4 linked regions of the Homo sapiens genome follow. The protein of the gene in region 1 purifies or fractionates together with the protein of each later gene. This does not show direct contact. Each region holds a gene or a part of one and is shown on either strand. Other genes may lie near its edges.

What was found.
Region 2: the proteins of CNOT10 (region 1) and CAPZA1 purify together in Homo sapiens (affinity purification with mass spectrometry; one large-scale study listed by BioGRID and IntAct). This does not show direct contact.
Region 3: the proteins of CNOT10 (region 1) and BTG3 purify together in Homo sapiens (affinity purification with mass spectrometry; one large-scale study listed by BioGRID and IntAct). This does not show direct contact.
Region 4: the proteins of CNOT10 (region 1) and TNKS1BP1 purify together in Homo sapiens (affinity purification with mass spectrometry; 4 studies listed by BioGRID and IntAct, with this or other methods). This does not show direct contact.

Annotation. Positions count from the first base shown.
Region 1 is NC_000003.12:32,768,166-32,772,617, reverse strand, and holds part of CNOT10 (CCR4-NOT transcription complex subunit 10), read right to left. Parts: intron 2,732-4,452; coding exon 2,656-2,731; intron 1-2,655. UniProt on the Homo sapiens protein: Component of the CCR4-NOT complex which is one of the major cellular mRNA deadenylases and is linked to various cellular processes including bulk mRNA degradation, miRNA-mediated repression, translational repression during translational initiation and general transcription regulation.
Region 2 is NC_000001.11:112,622,832-112,626,331, forward strand, and holds part of CAPZA1 (F-actin-capping protein subunit alpha-1), read left to right. Parts: intron 1-3,500. UniProt on the Homo sapiens protein: F-actin-capping proteins bind in a Ca(2+)-independent manner to the fast growing ends of actin filaments (barbed end) thereby blocking the exchange of subunits at these ends.
Region 3 is NC_000021.9:17,598,901-17,603,352, forward strand, and holds part of BTG3 (protein BTG3), read right to left. Parts: intron 1-4,452. UniProt on the Homo sapiens protein: Overexpression impairs serum-induced cell cycle progression from the G0/G1 to S phase.
Region 4 is NC_000011.10:57,300,445-57,304,896, reverse strand, and holds part of TNKS1BP1 (182 kDa tankyrase-1-binding protein), read left to right. Parts: intron 1-1,801; coding exon of another isoform or gene 1,802-1,928; exon of another isoform or gene 1,929-2,032; intron 2,033-2,071; coding exon 2,072-2,438; intron 2,439-2,672; coding exon 2,673-2,823; intron 2,824-2,953; coding exon 2,954-3,090; intron 3,091-3,855; coding exon 3,856-4,013; intron 4,014-4,296; coding exon 4,297-4,357; 3' UTR 4,358-4,369; intron 4,370-4,452.

The sequences.
Region 1 (4,452 bases):
TCAAGCAATTCTCCTGCCTCAGCCTCCAGAGTAGCTGGGATTACGGGCATGAGCTACTGTGCCCAGCCTTTTTAAAATTTTTTATTTTTTAAAAAAGAGACAGGGTCTCACTATATTGCCCAGGCTGGAGTGCAGTGACTGTTCACAGGAGCAATACTGCACACTATAGCCTTGAACTCTTGGCCTTAAGCAATCCTCCCGCCTCAGCCTCCAGAGTAGCTAGGACTCCATGCTTGGCTGTGACTTCATTTATGTCCCTTTTTTTTTTTGAGACGGAGTCTCGCTCTGTCGTTCAGACTGGAGTGCAGTGGCACGATCTCGGCTCAGTGCAACCTCCGCCTCCGGATTCAAGCAATTCTCCTGCCTCAGCCTGCTGAGTAGCTGGAACTACAACTGTATGCCAACACGCCCAGCTAATTTTGTGTATTTTTAGTAGAGACAGGGTTTCACCATGTTAGCCAGGATGGTCTCGATCTCCTGACCTCATGATCTGCCCGCCTCGGCCTCCCAAAGTGTTGGGATTACATGCATGAGCCACCGCACCTGGCCTATTTCTGTCCCTTCTAATCTCTCTCATTCATGTCTCTTTTCTACTTCATGCTATCTCATATTTAGAGCCAACAGCCTTTCTTCTAGTGAGATACATCTTGGAGATCGTATATGCCCTAGAGGCATGACCTGAATTTATGTTTGAATAAATAATTCTCAGCAAGAACTGGCTTACTGTAAAACTTGTTAATATGTGTTCAAAATACTATGGTGTATAACTCAAAGCAACTGCATTCTAACTCATGTTCTCAGTCATTTAGCTGCCTAGGAGAAAGGTTAATTAATAGTGATTAATTATAATTAAGTGTCTGAAGTTATGATTCTGTATTTTCTCAGATAAAAGGAGATAAGCTTAACTTGTAAGGAGTATTTGTAGGATACCAAAAACTCCCTAACTATATCTATCAATTTATCTATTTATCTATCTATCTATCTAGATAGATATAGGTATTTATTATTATTATTATTTGAGACAGGGTTTCACTCTGTCGCCCAGATTGGAGTGCAGTGGTGTGTCTCGGCTCACTGCAACCTCCCACCTCCCAGGCTCAAGCGATTCTCCTGCTTCAGCCTCCTAAGTACCTGGATTACAGGCATGCGCCACCACGCCTGGCTAATTTTTGTATTTTCAGTAAAGATGGGGTTTTACCATGTTGGCTAGGCTGGTTTCGAACTCCTGACCTCAAATGATCCACCCGTGTCGGCCTCCCAAAGTGCTGGGATTATAGGCGTGAGCCACTGTGCCCGGCCTATTATTATTTTTTTAGACAAGGTCTTATTCTGGCATGATCTCAGTTCACTGCAGCCTCAACCTCCAGGGCTCAAGTGATCCTCCAATCTCAGCCTTCCCAGTAGCTGGAACTACAGGCGCACACCACCACACCCAGCTAATTTTTGTATTTTTTGTAGAGATGGGGTTTTGCCATGTTGCCCAGGCTGGTCTTGAACTCCTGAACTCTGGTGATCAGCCCACCTCAGCCTCCCAAAGTGCTGGGATTATAGGCATGTGCCACTGCGCCCAGCTCCTAACTATATTTTTATGTAGAAGAATTTGATGGGTCGTCGCTCTGGCTCACGCCTATAATCCCAGCACTTTAAGAGGCCGAGGCAGGCAGATCACCTGAGGTCAGAAGTTCAAGACCAGCTTGGCCAACGTGGTGAACCCGGTCTCTACTAAAAATACAAAAATTAACCAGGCATGTTGGTGGGTGCCTGTAATCCCAGCTACTTGAGAGGCTGAGACAGGAGAATCTCTTGAACCTTGAACCCGGGAGGCGGAGGTTGCAGTGAGCTGAGATAGTGCCACTGCACTCCAGCCTGGGTGACAGAGCGAGACTCCATCTCAAAAAAGAAAAAAAAAAAAGAATTTGATGGGTCACCTATCTTCAAGGAAGGCAAATTTCTGACTCTGAAGAGAAAAAACAGACATTAAAAATCTCAGCCTTGCCGGGTGCGGTGGCTCACGCCTGTAATCCAAGCACTTTGGGAGGCCGAGGTGGGCAGATCATGAGGTCAGGAGATCGAGACCATCGTGGCCAACACGGTGAAACCCTGTCTCTACTAAAAATACACAAAATTAGGTGGGCGTGGTGGCGGGCGCCTGTAGTCCTAGCTACTCAGGAGGCTGAGGCAGGAGAATGGCATGAACCCGGGAGGCGGAACTTGCAGTGAGCCGAGATCGCGCCACTGCACTCCAGCCTGGGCTACAGAGCAAGACTCTGTCTCAAAAAAAAAAAAAAAAAAAAAAAAAATCTCAGCCTTGGCTGAGCATGGTGGCTTATGCTTGTCATCCCAGCTACTAGGGAGGGTAAGATGGGAGGACTGCTTGAGCCCATGAGTTTGAGAGCAGCCTGGGCAACAAAGCGAGACCACATCTCTAAAAAAAATTTAAAAAATTAGTTGGGCTCAGTGGCGTGCACCTGTAGTCCCAGCTACCTGGAAGGCTGAGGTGGGAAGGCTGCTTGAGCCTAGGAGTTTGGAGGCTGCAGTGAGCTCTGATGGTACCACTGCACTCCAGCCTGGGCAACACAGTGAGACCCTGTCTCCCAACCAAAAAATCTCAGGCTCTTTCAAGGGATAAAGTCCTAAACAGAGAGAATTACTCACCATTCTGCAGTTCAAGGTAGACTGCCAGCAAGATGGCCTCAGGGGGCACCTCTTTAGGATGGATCATTGAAGCCGCCTTTGCTCAAAACAGAAAGATGCCCGTGAAAAAACAAAAGCTTAAGATACACACTCCAAGTACATCTGCCAACCAACAAGGTAACAAACTTATTCAAGCTCATTCCCACGTGACTTCCTAGGGACTACCTGTTGTTCTGCTCTGATGAGCCTCAGTTCCTTTTGTCTTAAAACCTAACAATTAAGCTAGACATGTAATACTCTGGGTTTTGAGATGGGTGACTGGACACCCCGATACTACAGTCAACCATCCAATTCTGCTGGTGGCTTTCACAACAGACACATACAGTTGCAATTACATCAAAATCTGCATGCCCATTTGTTTTCCTAAGTAACACTTCAGTATTACAAACTGTAAGTTGTCAATGTCAGGAATAATAATTCAAACTTATAGTAATACAGAAAAAACGTACCACGTAGCATGTTTGAGGTCTCCATTCTTAAGGACTGAAACACACTTCAATTTAGTCCAATAAAATAATTTACTAGTTTAGGCAACATGCTGCCCTTAGATCTGAGTAAGAGCCATAGCATCGGCCAGCAGTTTCTCTCTGATCCAGTCCTGAAGAAGGAAGCCTGGACTGCTCTGGACAGAAGTGCTGAAATTACAGGTTTATTTCCTCAGTCTGGGCCTCTTTGAGCTACAGCCAAAATATTCCTCACCTTATTATCAACTTGTACTTCCCCATCTAGTTTTAGTTGCTCATTGCTTCCAGACAGCTCTGCCTCTTCTCTTAATCTAATCAGATAATAGACTTCTACAAATACTTATTGAACAGAGGTGGGTATGGAGATAAGACAGGGACTTCCCCTGATAACAAACAAGCATGCAAATAACTAACAATAATCCAAACACAGTTACGTAAATGCCAGGGAGAAAGGCAGTGAATGTGCTGTGAATATGGAGAGAAAGGAAGAAGTTTCTTTCAAACAGAGCTTTGGGGTAAGGGAGGCCTGCTTTAGTCCTTGCAGGGTAGATATCTCACAGGTAGAAAATGGGGAGAAATGGTACTGAAGGTAGCAGCTTGAACGTGGGAGATGTTGGGGAAGACCAGAAACGTGTACTAGGTTGGTTTCTGGCAGCATTAGGAGAAATCTCAGACTAGCGGGGCATGTTGCCCAGAGCATGTGCTTCTAAGAAGTTCCTCATGAATGAGGTGGGGAGGCTTTTATTCCTCTCGCCACAACACTGAGGTATAACAACTCTTTTCAGAAAATGAGATTTTATATATCTAAGCCTAGCTTTCTAGGCAAGCTGTATAGGCAAGATCGTCTTTATACCATTTTGTGGATTTTTTTTTTTTGAGACGGAGTTTTGCTCTTGTTGCCCAGGCTGGAGTGCAATTGCACGATCTAGGCTCACTGCAACCTCCGCCTCCTGGGTTCAAGCGATTCTTCTGCCTCAGCCTCCCAAGTAGCTGGGATTACAGGCTCCTGCCACCACGCCCAGCTAATTTCTTGTATTTTTAGTATAGACGGGGTTTCATCATGTTGTCCAGGCTAGTCTTGAACTCCTCACCTCAGATGATCCACCCGCCTTGGCCTCCCAAAGTGCTGGGATTACAGATGTGAGCCACTGTGCCCGGCCCATTTTGTGGATAGTAAAATCTCTGTTTTCCATCCAAGTGGCTAGTAACACATTTTATTTACTGTTTTTTTCAATGACCACAGTCTGAAGCTTTTTTTAAAATACAAGAATTCAAGGCAACATCTTTATGATAC
Region 2 (3,500 bases), on another chromosome or scaffold:
AAATAGATGAAATATGAGGGCTTTGTTAGAGCACATGAAAAATATTTTATACTTTTTTTTTTTTTTTTTGAAACGAAGTCTTGCACTGTCTCCCAGCGGGCTGGAGTGCAGTGGTACGATCTCGGCTCACTGCAACCTCCACCTCCTGAGTTCAAGTGATTCTCCTGCCTCAGCATCCCAAGTAGCTGGGATTACAGGCACCTGCCACCACACCCGGCTAATTTTTTGTATTTTTAGTAGAGACAGGGTTTCAATATGTTGGTCAGGCTAGTCTCAAACTCCTGACCTCGTGATCCGCCTGCCTTGGCCTCCCAAAGTGCCGAGATTGCAGGCGTGAGTCACTGCACCTGCCAAATATTTATGCTTTTAAACTGGATCCTTGATTATGTATTACCTCCTTAATTTACTAGTTACCATTGTAGGATAAAGCAAGCCCTAAAGATTGTTTGGTGTGGCTGTTTTCTAACAAGTCATCAATTAATATTAAAACTGTCATTCTTCCATCTTCACTTTTCAGTTAGTTTTGCTGAGAGGTATTCATATAATCTGTTAAGACATCCTAGGACAGGCCGGGCCCAGTGGCTCACGCCTGTGACCCCAACACTCTGGGAGGCCGAGGCAGGTGCATCATCTGAGGTCGGGAGTTTGAGACCAGCCTGACCAACATGGAGAAACCCCATCTCTACTAAAAATACAAAAATTAGCTGGGCGCAGTGGCACATGCCTGTAATCCCAGCTACTCAGTAGGCTGAGGCAGGAGAATCGCTGGAACCTGGGAGGCGGAGGTTGCGGTGACCCGAGATCACGCCATTGCACTCCAGCCTGGGCAACAGGAGCGAAACTCCGTCTCAAAAAAAAAAAAAAAGAAAAGAAAGCCCGGGCGCGGTGGTTCATGCCTGTAATCCCAGCACTTTGGGAGGCCGAGGCGGGTGGATCACGAGGTCAGGAGATCGAGACCTGACCTCAGGAGATCGAGATCCTGGCTAACGCAGTGAAACACCGTCTCTACTAAAAATACAAAAAAATTAGCCGGGCGTGGTGGCAGGTGCCTGTAGTCCCAGCTAATCGGGAGGCTGAGGCAGGAGAATGGTGTGAACCCGGGAGGCAGAGTTTGCAGTGAGCCGAGATTGTGCCACTGCACTCCAGCCTGGGTGACAGAGCAAGACTCCATCTCAAAAAAAAAAAAAAAGAAAAAAGAAAAGAAAAAGAAATCCTAGGACAGGAGCATAAAGCCTAATAAGCAGGTGCAAACTCACATGTCCAGTCTTGTTAGTAGTACTGATTTATCATAATTTCTTCCAGAACACTTAGCTGTTTTATTACGACCAGGCTTAATGCTAAACAAAGTAGTGTAAATTTGTCAGAAAATTCAGATCCCAGGTTTTTCTGATTATGTAGCCATGCTTTTTTCACTATACTTTTCTTTTCCATATAGGTATGAATGAAAAACCAGAGTAGAGACATCCATTTAGTGGATTATAAATGAGGTATTATGGGCTGGGCATGATGGCTCACGCTCGTAATCCCAGTACTTTGGGAGGCCAAGGCGGTCAGATCATCTGAGGTCAGGAGTTAGAGACCAGCCTGACCAACACGGTGAAACCCTGTCTCTATTAAAAATACAAAATTAGCCAGGTGTGGTGGTGCATGTCTGTAATCCCAGCTACTCAGGAGGCTGAGGCAGGAGAATAGCTTGAACCCAGGAGGCGGAGGTTGCAGTGAGCCGAGATCGCGCCATTGCACTCCAGCCTGGGCAACAGAGCAAAACTCCATCAAAAAAAAAAAAAAAAAAAAAAAAAAGAGGTATTATGATGTAATGGAAAAGAGTGATTGTGAGTGTTAGATATGGCCTTTCCCTTTCGTGCTTCTAGCCACCTTGTCACTGATTTTGGAAACCTCACTTAACCTCTATGGGTGGGCCTCAATTTCCATCTAAAATAGAGAAGTAGGGAGGAATTGGATCAAACCAGCCCAAGAAAATTTAATTAACTATTTCAAACTCTAATGAAAAATCTCTACTTTAAAAATTGAAACACAAAAATGTTCTGGGAGGTTCTATTCATTGTCTGCTTTCCTACATTTGCCCTGATTACAAGACTGAGTTCCTTGATAATTGAAACCATGTCTCTTTATCTAGTGCCTAGCATAGTGCCAAGCACACAGTGTATGCACAGCCTATTGGTATGAAAGAGAACACAACTTCATTAATTCTCATATCTCTCCAGTTCACACCCCTTCATCTCCTGTAAAACACCCCTTCCCCTACAATTATTTCTGTTAGTCTCTAGGTGTTTCTTGTATTCAAGAGTATGTCCACAGTTTGGGTGCCTCTGTGCATTCCTTCTATCTGAGCATCTGCCATCATTGGTGCTCTGCCATGCCACTGCTGGGAACATTTGACCCCTCTGGGAGCATCTTCCTAATAGATCCCATAAACTGCAAAGCCTTATGGTTACCAAAATGATGGTGTATATATATACTTGGAGCCTTGCAAAGCCCCTAATGAAAGTATTTCCTTCACCAGCTAGAAGTACTCTCCTTTAGCGATCAGATTAAAACACACACCCAGGTGTGTGTTTTAAAGAAAAAGGACCCAAGAGGGAAAAAGTTTCCAAGGCATGAATGAATTAAGAGTGGCAAATGCTACTGAGATAGAAAGATTAGGACGGAGAAAACAGCACTCACTCTGACAGTATTCTTTCCAACTGGATTTGGTAAATAAGAGTGAAGAGGTACCTCGAGTGAGCACTGGGAGAAGTCATACTGGAAGGGATAAGCAGTGATTGACATAAGAAAGTAAAATAAATTCAGGTTCATCCAGACACCCCCATAATCTTGCCTTGACCCAGAAACATTGTGTTCACAGGACTTTCAGCTTCCCACCCCCATAAGTAAGCTTCCTAATTATGATATCTTGGTCTTGCCAAGCATTTAGAGGGCCTTACTCTGTGGCCCTCCAGATAGTGATTTGAATGATTAAGTAAACCTCTTTTTAGATAAGTGTTCTAGTCCAGTCTAACATCAGCTTGTTGGTCTTTTTGGCACTGTCATTGTCCAGTACCAGCACATTCTTGGCTCCTTGCCACATCTCTGGCCTCAATGTGGGAGGCAAAGACAGTGAGCATTTCCAGAGTGGTGAGATGGGTGCAGCACATAATGAGGCGATGACCACACAGCATCTCTGAACAGCATGTCCACACAGGGCTCGAAGTCATTATGCTGCATGTCCACCTCATGTCCACAATAGCTGAGCAGTTGAGATTGGTGGAGTGGACCTTCTCATTACTCATCATCTAGAGGAAGGTCCTCATCATCTCTACTTCTCAAAGGGGTAGAATTGAACCTGAACCTGCTTGACAGACAAGAGCCCAAGCCTAACCAAGGTGGCTGCCATGGTGACCCTTGCCCTGAAAGCCATTTCCATTAATTTAAAAATTGTAGGTATATAGGAACTATAATAACAGGCTTAAAATTAAAATTTGCTCTGTTTGTTGGGTCAC
Region 3 (4,452 bases), on another chromosome or scaffold:
TCTGGACATGCCATCAATACAAGGCAAAGATTGAATCATCACAGAACTTGACCCTACACATTTAATATCCTAATACAGCTCAATGCCAGCAAGCAAACCACAGTTTTCTACTTCTGGTCTATTTAAGTATTCATAAACATAACCCCATTTTCTTTCCCTTATTTTCTTTCTACTAATTCCTAAAAAAAAAATTGTTTAAAACATCAAAAAAAGTCCATTGTTTTGATTACATTTTTGTATGTACCAATGAAATTGGTTGTACAATAAAACATTCTGATGTATTTTTATTTTTTTGAGATGGGTTTCACTCTGTTGCCCAGGCTGGAGTGCAGTGGCACAATCACAACTCACTGCAGACTCTACCTCCTGGGCTCAGGTGATCGATCCTCCAACTTCAAACCTCCCAAGAGGCTGGGACTACAGGAGTGTACCACCATGCTCAGCTAATTTATATACATTTTTAGAGACAGGGTTTCACCATGTTGCTGAGGCTGGTCCCAAACTCCTAGGCTCAAGAGATCCACCCACTTCAGCTACCCAAAGTGCTAGAATTACAGGCATGCGCCACTGGCTGATTTTTTTTTTTTTTTTTTTGAGACGGAGTCTCACTCTGTTGCCCAGGCTGGAGTGCAATGGGTGCAATCTCGGCCCACTACAATCTCCACCTCCCAGGTGTTCAAGTGATTCTCCTGCCTCAGCCTCCTAAGTAGCTGGGATTACAGGTGCCCACCACCACGCCCAGCTAATTTTTGTATTTTTAGTAGAGATGAGGTTTCACCATGCTGGCCAGGCTGGTCTTGAACTCCTGACCTCAGGTGATCCACCCGCCTCGGCCTCCCAAAGTGCTGGGTTTATAGGCGTGAGCCATCACGCCCAGCCCCAGCTGTACTTATAAATGTAACATATATGCTAGTAATTCAAGTCACAGATCAACTAGAAATTTCCTATAAAATTGACTTTAACCCCAATTAAATAAAAAAGGGGGCCTGTTATTTATACTCACAAAAATGAGAACTGAGGCAGTTATTGAGATTAAAGAAAAAAGATAGTTGTTGAAGAATATAGAGGTTTTGCTTAAATTATATTGCTTACTTCAGAGTTTCCTAGGATAACTACTCACCTCTCATCTTAATTTTTTTTAAGGTAAGATGAAAAAATCTTGTTATTCTTCCAAAACATTTTTGAAGATTTTTGATTTTTTTTAAGTTGTCAAAATATGTAACATATGCTGCTGGTTACTTAAAAAAAAATTCTGAACTGTAGGAAAATAGTGTAATAAACTCAAGTAAAACCAAGAGTTTTTATTCAGTGGACATAGGAGAAATCCACAAATCTATTTAAATAGATTGCACAGTGTCAACACTATCAAACAATTTCTAGCATCAGGACAAAGGATATTGTTAAGCGGTTCTTACAAAACACATACAGTTAGAAATGTAATTAAAGTGATTCTAAGTTTGAAAAAAGATAAAAATAAGTAACTCTAAGTAGAAATAATGTCAAGCTTTTGATTCAATAGTTAGCTGAAGTTAATTCATTTCAAGATAGCACTCGTCTCAAATTATTTCTGAATCAGAATGGTTATCTATTATAAAGTAAAAGGCTTAACTGCTATAAAGCCTTTGAAAATGTACATGAGGCTGGGTGCAGTGGCTTACACCTGTAATTCCAGCACTTCAGGAGGCCTAGGTGGGCAGACTGCTTGAGCCCAGGAATTTGAGACCAGTCTGGGTAACATGGTGAGACCCTGTCTCTCAAAAAAACAAAAAAACAAGAACAAAAAATTAAAAAAACAGAAAAGAAAATGTATGTGGAAATCTAGCAGTCTCAGAGATCACACATAGATGAGTTCTATTTCTTCAGATAGCTATGCTGTCTTCCATTCCTATAGGCCAAATGAAACTATAAATACTACTTAAATATAGTACATAACTTCGCTTTTGTATTCTTTTTTAGTTTACCTCATAAAAGTTGCTACAGGGGCTGGGCGCGGTGGCTCATGCCTGTAATCCCAGCACTTTGGGAGGCCAAGGCGGGTGGATCATGAGGTCAGGCGTTCGAGGCCAGCCTGGCCAACATGGTGAAACCCTGTCTCTACTAAAAATACAAAAAATTAGCCGGGCATGGTGGTGTGCGCCTGTAATCCCAGCTACTCGGGAGGCTGAGGCAGGAGAATTGCTTGAACCTGGGAGGCAGAGGTTGCAGTGAGCTGAGATCGCACCACTGCACTCCAGCCTGGGCGACAGAGTGAGACTCCGTCTCAAAAAAAAAAAAAAAGTTGCTACGGGATGGTAGAAAGGGCATTAGACTAGTTTCTCATTCTGGCTCTGCCACTGACTAGCTTGGTCACCAGAGGCAAGTCACTTAATTTCCCTAGGCCTTAGTTTCCTATATGCTGGACGAGGAAGCTGGAGCTGGCTAGATAGTGGTTGATCTACGGCTGGTGACTCTTCGTAGTATAAAATACCTAAACAGAAGCTGGACATGGTAGCTTACATCTATAATTCTAGTACTTTGGAAGGTCAAGGCAGGAAGATTGCTTGAGCCCAGGAGTTCACAATTATAGTGAGCTATGATCATGCCACCGCATTCCAGCCTGGACAACACAGCAAGACCCTCTCTCTAAAACAAAACAAAACAAACAAAAAATAAATTCCTAAACAATTGAGTTCCTCACAACATAAAATTTGTGTTCTCTAATTTCAAGTTTACTTAGCATAAGGTTTTAGCAATACACATTTACTCCATGTCCCCTCCACAGTTGGAAGACTCAACAAATTTCAAGACAATCAAGGGTTAATTCATGTGTTAATGACACTAATATAACAATGACTTAGGCCTATCTTCAGTTTTGCCCATTAATGGAATCAAAATTCAAAAATGGAAAGGCAAGAAATTTGAGAAAAATTCCTGCCTTTGTAAACAGAAACCTCAACCAAGGGCAAATATCTAATGATTGAAGGATCAGCATTATTAACTCAGATTTCTTTGACACCTAGTTTGGTTCTGCATTTTTCCCTTTGTACTATTTTGGTATGAAGGCTCTCTCTTCATGGTAAGAGAAGCTGCTGACTATACTACTATAACATTACAATGTGCAGTCGATATCTTAGGAGAATTAGTAGACACCTGGACAACTTTTAAACTTTCCATTTTTCAATGATCACTGATAAAACATCAAGGCTAATTTAGTTATTTAGAAACAATCAATAGTATTTAACACTCTATTGGGGGAAAAAAAGGATGGCAGAAATCACCAAAAAAAAAAAAAGTTGTAAAATATGTTGAGTAGATAAGCTGGCATCTGTTCTCAGAACTTCTCATCATAGGCAAGATTTATTTTCTATTCTGTATCACGAAGTGATAACCTTTCTAACTATATGGCACTCTTTGTACTCTTGCAGCATTTTATTCTATCAGAGTAAGTGAAGACTATGAAGAATGTTCTCAGTGCATCTCAATTTTTTTTTACAATCTTAGTCTCTAGTATACCAATGAGTTATTATTTTTAAAGATTCTCAGATATTTGATCAATTGTATACTTGCTAGATCAGCTTTAATTTTCAAAATATCTATGTTTCCAGTTTTGGTGAAAAAATATTTCTCAATGTCTTTTTCTTCTGTTAACTTATATCAACCACCTCTACTAAACGATTAATACGTCTTTCTTTTTGGGGTTCTGTTATTGAATGAACACCTGACACTCGCAGGTGATTTCTATTAGCTGTGAAAAAAATCACATCAGAGCCAATTTTTGGCAAATTTACATATAAATTAGAAGCCTACTGAATGAAAAGGTTTTCTAAGATTAATAAGATGAAAGCAAAGTAGCAGTTTTTTCCTACCAGGCATCATCAAGTAATGAAATGTCTACTGAAGTAGAATGTCCGTATAACTAAAGTTTTTATGTTCAGGTACTGAGACTTATTTTAAGCATTTTAAATACATAGGTCCAAAATGTTTATATAATTATGTAACTTGTTAAACATCCTTGGACATAAAAACTTTCCCCTGATGGTTTAGGATCATTATATTGAACGTAAACTATTTGATTGTGTGATAACATAATCGTGCTGATTTTTTAGCTTTTTCATTTTTGCCTCTATGTCAGACCACATGACATTTTTTGGTAGCGTCTGACTCATCAACCCTCTTTAAAATGCTGCTTCTCACATTTCATGGGTTAAGAAACCACACAACTAACTTAACTGTGTGTTAAATAGGAGCCAACTAGGATCTAAGTGCAGGTCAAATTAAAAAGTAAACAATTCAATATAGTAGCTTTTTGACAGCTATTTCTTATAAATGGAGGTCTTCTGCACAGGTTCAGTGGCCAAAGTTTTCCAAGTCTGAAACTAGCCTAAAGCAGGTCCTTAATTAGTCCCAGAATCTAAAAATGTTTATTTTCTCAGACCTAAATTTGAGATAGCTTGCTCCTTTTCTACCCGAGAA
Region 4 (4,452 bases), on another chromosome or scaffold:
ATTTTTTTTTTTTTTTTTTTTTTTGAGACGGAGTTTTGCTCTTGTTGCCTGGGCTGGAGTGCAGTGGCGCGGTCTTGGCTCACTGCAACCTCCACCACCCGGGTTCAAGCGATTCTCCTGCCTCAGTCTCCCCCAAGAAGCTGGGATTACAGGTGCCTGCCACCATGCCTGGCTAATTTTTGTATTTTTAGTAGAAACAGAGTTTCACCATGTTGTCCAGGCTGGTCTGGAACTCCTGACCTCAGGTGATCCGCCTGTTTTGGCCTCCCAAAGTGCTGGGATTACAGGCGTGAGCCAGGGCATTTCACATCTCTTTAGCTCATGGGGCCTGCCCTTAGCCTTCTTTTGCCCCACCCCAGGGAGAGGCTTTGGGCCTGGCCTCTGTAGTCTGGGTGGGGTGCTGTTGCCACCCCCTCCCTCCAAATTCTCCCTGATTTTAAGCTGGCTGTCAGGGTGAGCTGGCTTTGGCCCCCAGCCAGGGCTGCTCCCAATTCTGCTGCCTTGCTGTACTTCTGCTGCCGCCACTGCCTCCTCCCCCAATGTCTCTCCCCAGACCACTTTAATTTCCATCTGTCAGCAGCTTGTGGAAGGACAGACTACCACTCATGCTCTCTCTCCCTGCCCCCTCTTCCTGCTTGGTATTGACTCACCTGCCCCACTCTCCTCCTGCTTTAATCCCAGTGGGAACCTGGGGCCTGGCTTCCAGGCACTGCCGTGCCAGGCTTTCCCACACCTCTGTGCGTAGTATGAGTGTGTGTGTGTGGGGTGGGGGTGTGGGGATGCGGGGATGCGTGTGTTTGTGTCAGGTGTGGCTCTGTGCCGTGCCTGTAGATGTGGTGGGTGCGAGGTCCATCTGGGGGAGTGACAAACAGCGCACAAGCTCTCTGCCTGAGTGTGTGTGATGGTGATGAATGTGAATGTGTCATTTTGGGGAGTGGCCGCTGGACAGGGCGGGCAGTATGAGTTAGTGAGAGAGTGTGTGGTGTGCTTGTGCCGTGTTTGTATTTTGTTTTTAGATGGGGTCTTGCTATGTTGCCCAGGCTGGTCTTGAACTCCTGGGCTCACGTGATCCCCCTGCCCTGGCCTCCCAAGTAGCTGGAATTACAGGCGTGAGCCCTGCACCCCATGTCCAGCTGTATTGTGTTTTGAGGAAGCAGCAGACAGAAGATGCATATGCTGCATGGAGGTCCAAGGTGACCCAGCCCCTCATTTGCTTGGCAAACATTTGCTTAGTCCGGCGCGTAGCCAGGCTCTGGGTCAGGTGCTGGGGGCATAAAGGCAGAAAGGGCCCCGTTTTTGCCCTTGAGGAGCTCACCGACAGGCTATGGGGACAAAGAACCACAGGAAAGAAGCAGGAACTGGCATGGATTGGAGCCCAGGGCTGGTAGGGCTGAGGCGGCCATGGTGGCTGGGAGGGGGCAGGGCAGCTTCGGAAGCAGAATTGAACCAAGGGGACAGTACCACCAGGGACGGTGTGGTGCGGGGAGCTTTCCAGAAGAGGGAGCAGCTCGTTCAAAGCCAGCAGCATGTGAGGGCCGGGTGTCTTCTGATGGTCCCTGGTTGCTCTGTGAGCCTGGGGAATGAAGAGGCATAACGTGGGGGCTGAAGACAACATGAGTCCGGAGAGGCAGGTGGGCCAGTACCTGGCTCACCCCAAGGAGTGTGACTGCCCGAGCACGTGGCCCTGGGAGGGAACACATTGCTAGCATGCAACAGCAGCAGGAATAATGGCTGCTGCTTCTGCGGTGCGTGCTGACCAGGACTGTGCTAAGTGCTTTAGATTTTTCTTTCATCCTTGCAGCGACTCCGTGCAGTTAGAGGAGCCTGAGCTGTTTCCAGGGGAGGGGGCTCACCCGAGGTCTCAGGGATTTGAACCTGCCAGACTGGCTCAGCTCTTCACCTGTGTGCTGTGTTGCTCAAGGCCCTGACCGTGTCCTTGGAGTCTGGAAAAAGCATGGGAAGGAGGGCAAGGGAGAGTTTGGGGGCTGGGGGAAGGAGCTTGTGAAGTAGGCTTCAGGGCAGGGAGATGGGGCCTTACGATGATCTCGTTCTCTCTCTGTCCCCTTTACAGCCCTGGCAGGTGCCCGGCCCGCCCCCCACCCTCCGGCTCCCAGGGCCTGCTGGAGGAGATGCTGGCAGCCAGCAGCTCCAAGGCGGTGGCTCGGAGGGAGTCAGCGGCCTCGGGCCTTGGGGGCCTGTTGGAGGAGGAAGGAGCCGGGGCAGGTGCTGCCCAAGAGGAGGTGCTGGAGCCTGGCAGGGACTCTCCACCCTCCTGGAGGCCGCAGCCTGATGGTGAGGCCAGCCAGACAGAAGACGTGGATGGCACCTGGGGCTCTTCAGCAGCCAGGTGGAGCGATCAGGGGCCAGCACAGACTTCTCGGCGACCCTCCCAAGGCCCTCCTGCCAGATCCCCCAGTCAGGACTTCTCCTTCATTGAGGTCAGTGGAGGGTGAGCCCATGACAGTGGGTGGGTGAGGGCGATGCAGCGAGAGCCCCATTCCTGGAGCTTCCCTGAGCAGTCCCAGTCCAGGAGGCAGAAAGCGGGTTGTAGGTGCGTCACGTGAACGTGAAGCTCCGGCTGCAGGAGGGGTCCAGCTCCTGGTCAGCTACTGTTGAGGGGCTCCCGTGGGATGAGGCAGCAATGGCAGTGGTGTCACCATTGCCCCAAGCAGGACACCGAGATCCTCGACAGTGCCATGTATCGGAGCCGTGCCAACTTGGGGCGCAAGCGTGGGCACCGGGCCCCGGTCATTCGGCCTGGGGGTACCTTGGGCCTGTCGGAGGCAGCAGACTCGGATGCACACCTGTTCCAGGACTCTACAGGTAGGGCTGATGTATTATTTGGTGATGTCTCTTGATCTCTAGGGCATTAGGCCAAGCTTTTGCAGGGGTTATGGGTTCGGGGAGTCTGGGTGTGCTGCCTTTTCTGAGCCCCTTTCCCGGGCCTTTGCAGAGCCACGGGCATCTCGGGTGCCATCTTCAGATGAAGAGGTAGTGGAGGAACCTCAGAGCCGCCGGACACGGATGTCGTTGGGCACCAAGGGGCTGAAAGTCAACCTCTTTCCTGGCCTGAGCCCCTCAGCCCTGAAGGTACCATCTGATCATTAAGCAAACATGTCCAGCCATCTGGCCAGGTGGCCACCTTGCATGCTGTCTTTCTTCTCTTCATCCATCAATTCATTCCCCTGTCCCCCTCTCCCATTCCTCCTCTCACTCTCCTCTCCATCGAGGGCTCCAGAAGATCCCTTTGTGCCCCGCCGGGCCCTATGCTGTGTGCCAAATGGGATGGAAAGAAGAACAAGATGTGTTCTTATTCTGGAACCTCAGGGGCAGTGGGAGACATGATGCCCATAATTAGCCTGGATGAGAGAAGAAGTTTAGGTGTCCCTGAGGAGAGGCACAGATAAGGGCTGGGCCTGTTCAGAGAGAGAGGAGTTATTTCCTAACAGCAGAGTGGAGGGGGATGGGAAGGGAGGGTGGATTGGAGAAGGCCTCTTGTATGTATTTGATCTTAGCCGGCGGCAGGCACAGGAGTTGGCTCCTGGAGCTGGGATGGTGGGGTGGCATTGCAGGCAGAGGGAACAGGGGTGGGAAGTCACCACTGGCTTTGTCCCACCCAGTTTGTCTGAATTCAATCCTGCCATATGTTTTTGAGGACAGAAAGGTGTGCAAGGCATAGCTCAGTTCTGCGGGAAGTGCATCTCTAAGTGACTTCCCATCCTTTGGGGTGAAAGGACTGCAGAGGGGTCTCTGCTTGATTCTGGGGACTGCACACTCTTGAGATAAGGTCTTACCCCCTGAGAGTCCTACTGCCTGTCCCTCTACTATCTATCTGCTTCTGGACTTGCTTCTCAGGCCAAGCTGCGCCCCCGGAATCGCTCAGCTGAGGAGGGAGAGCTGGCTGAGAGCAAGTCGAGCCAGAAGGAGTCCGCGGTCCAGCGTTCGAAATCCTGCAAGGTCCCAGGACTGGGAAAGCCCCTCACGTTACCTCCCAAGCCAGAGAAATCCTCAGGGTAGGTGACCTAAGCTCTGGGCATCCGCTGACCTCACTGTATTACCCTGATGAAAAGGGAAACTCTCACTTCACAGAAGAGGCAAACTGAGGCTCAAAGAGGAACCTCAGTCGGACATGCCCCAGATGAACGGTATGAAGATGGTGTCAGAATTTGGGTCCCTGCAGCCAGGCCCCAGACTGCCTCTTCTGGTTAGAGGGTGGTTTCTGTCCCTATCACGTCTCCTTGTTGTGTTCAGTTTCCTCAAAGTTTGCATTCTGGACCTTTGCCGTCTGCCTCCTAGGTCAGAAGGATCGTCGCCCAACTGGCTTCAAGCCCTGAAACTGAAGAAGAAGAAGGTCTGAGAAGTCACTGAGGTGAGGACAGGTTCCTGGGCTTGGATCCAGTCTGAGGAGGGCCTGCCCTGGAGGCTTCGGAGGCCTCATGCCCCTTCTGTCCC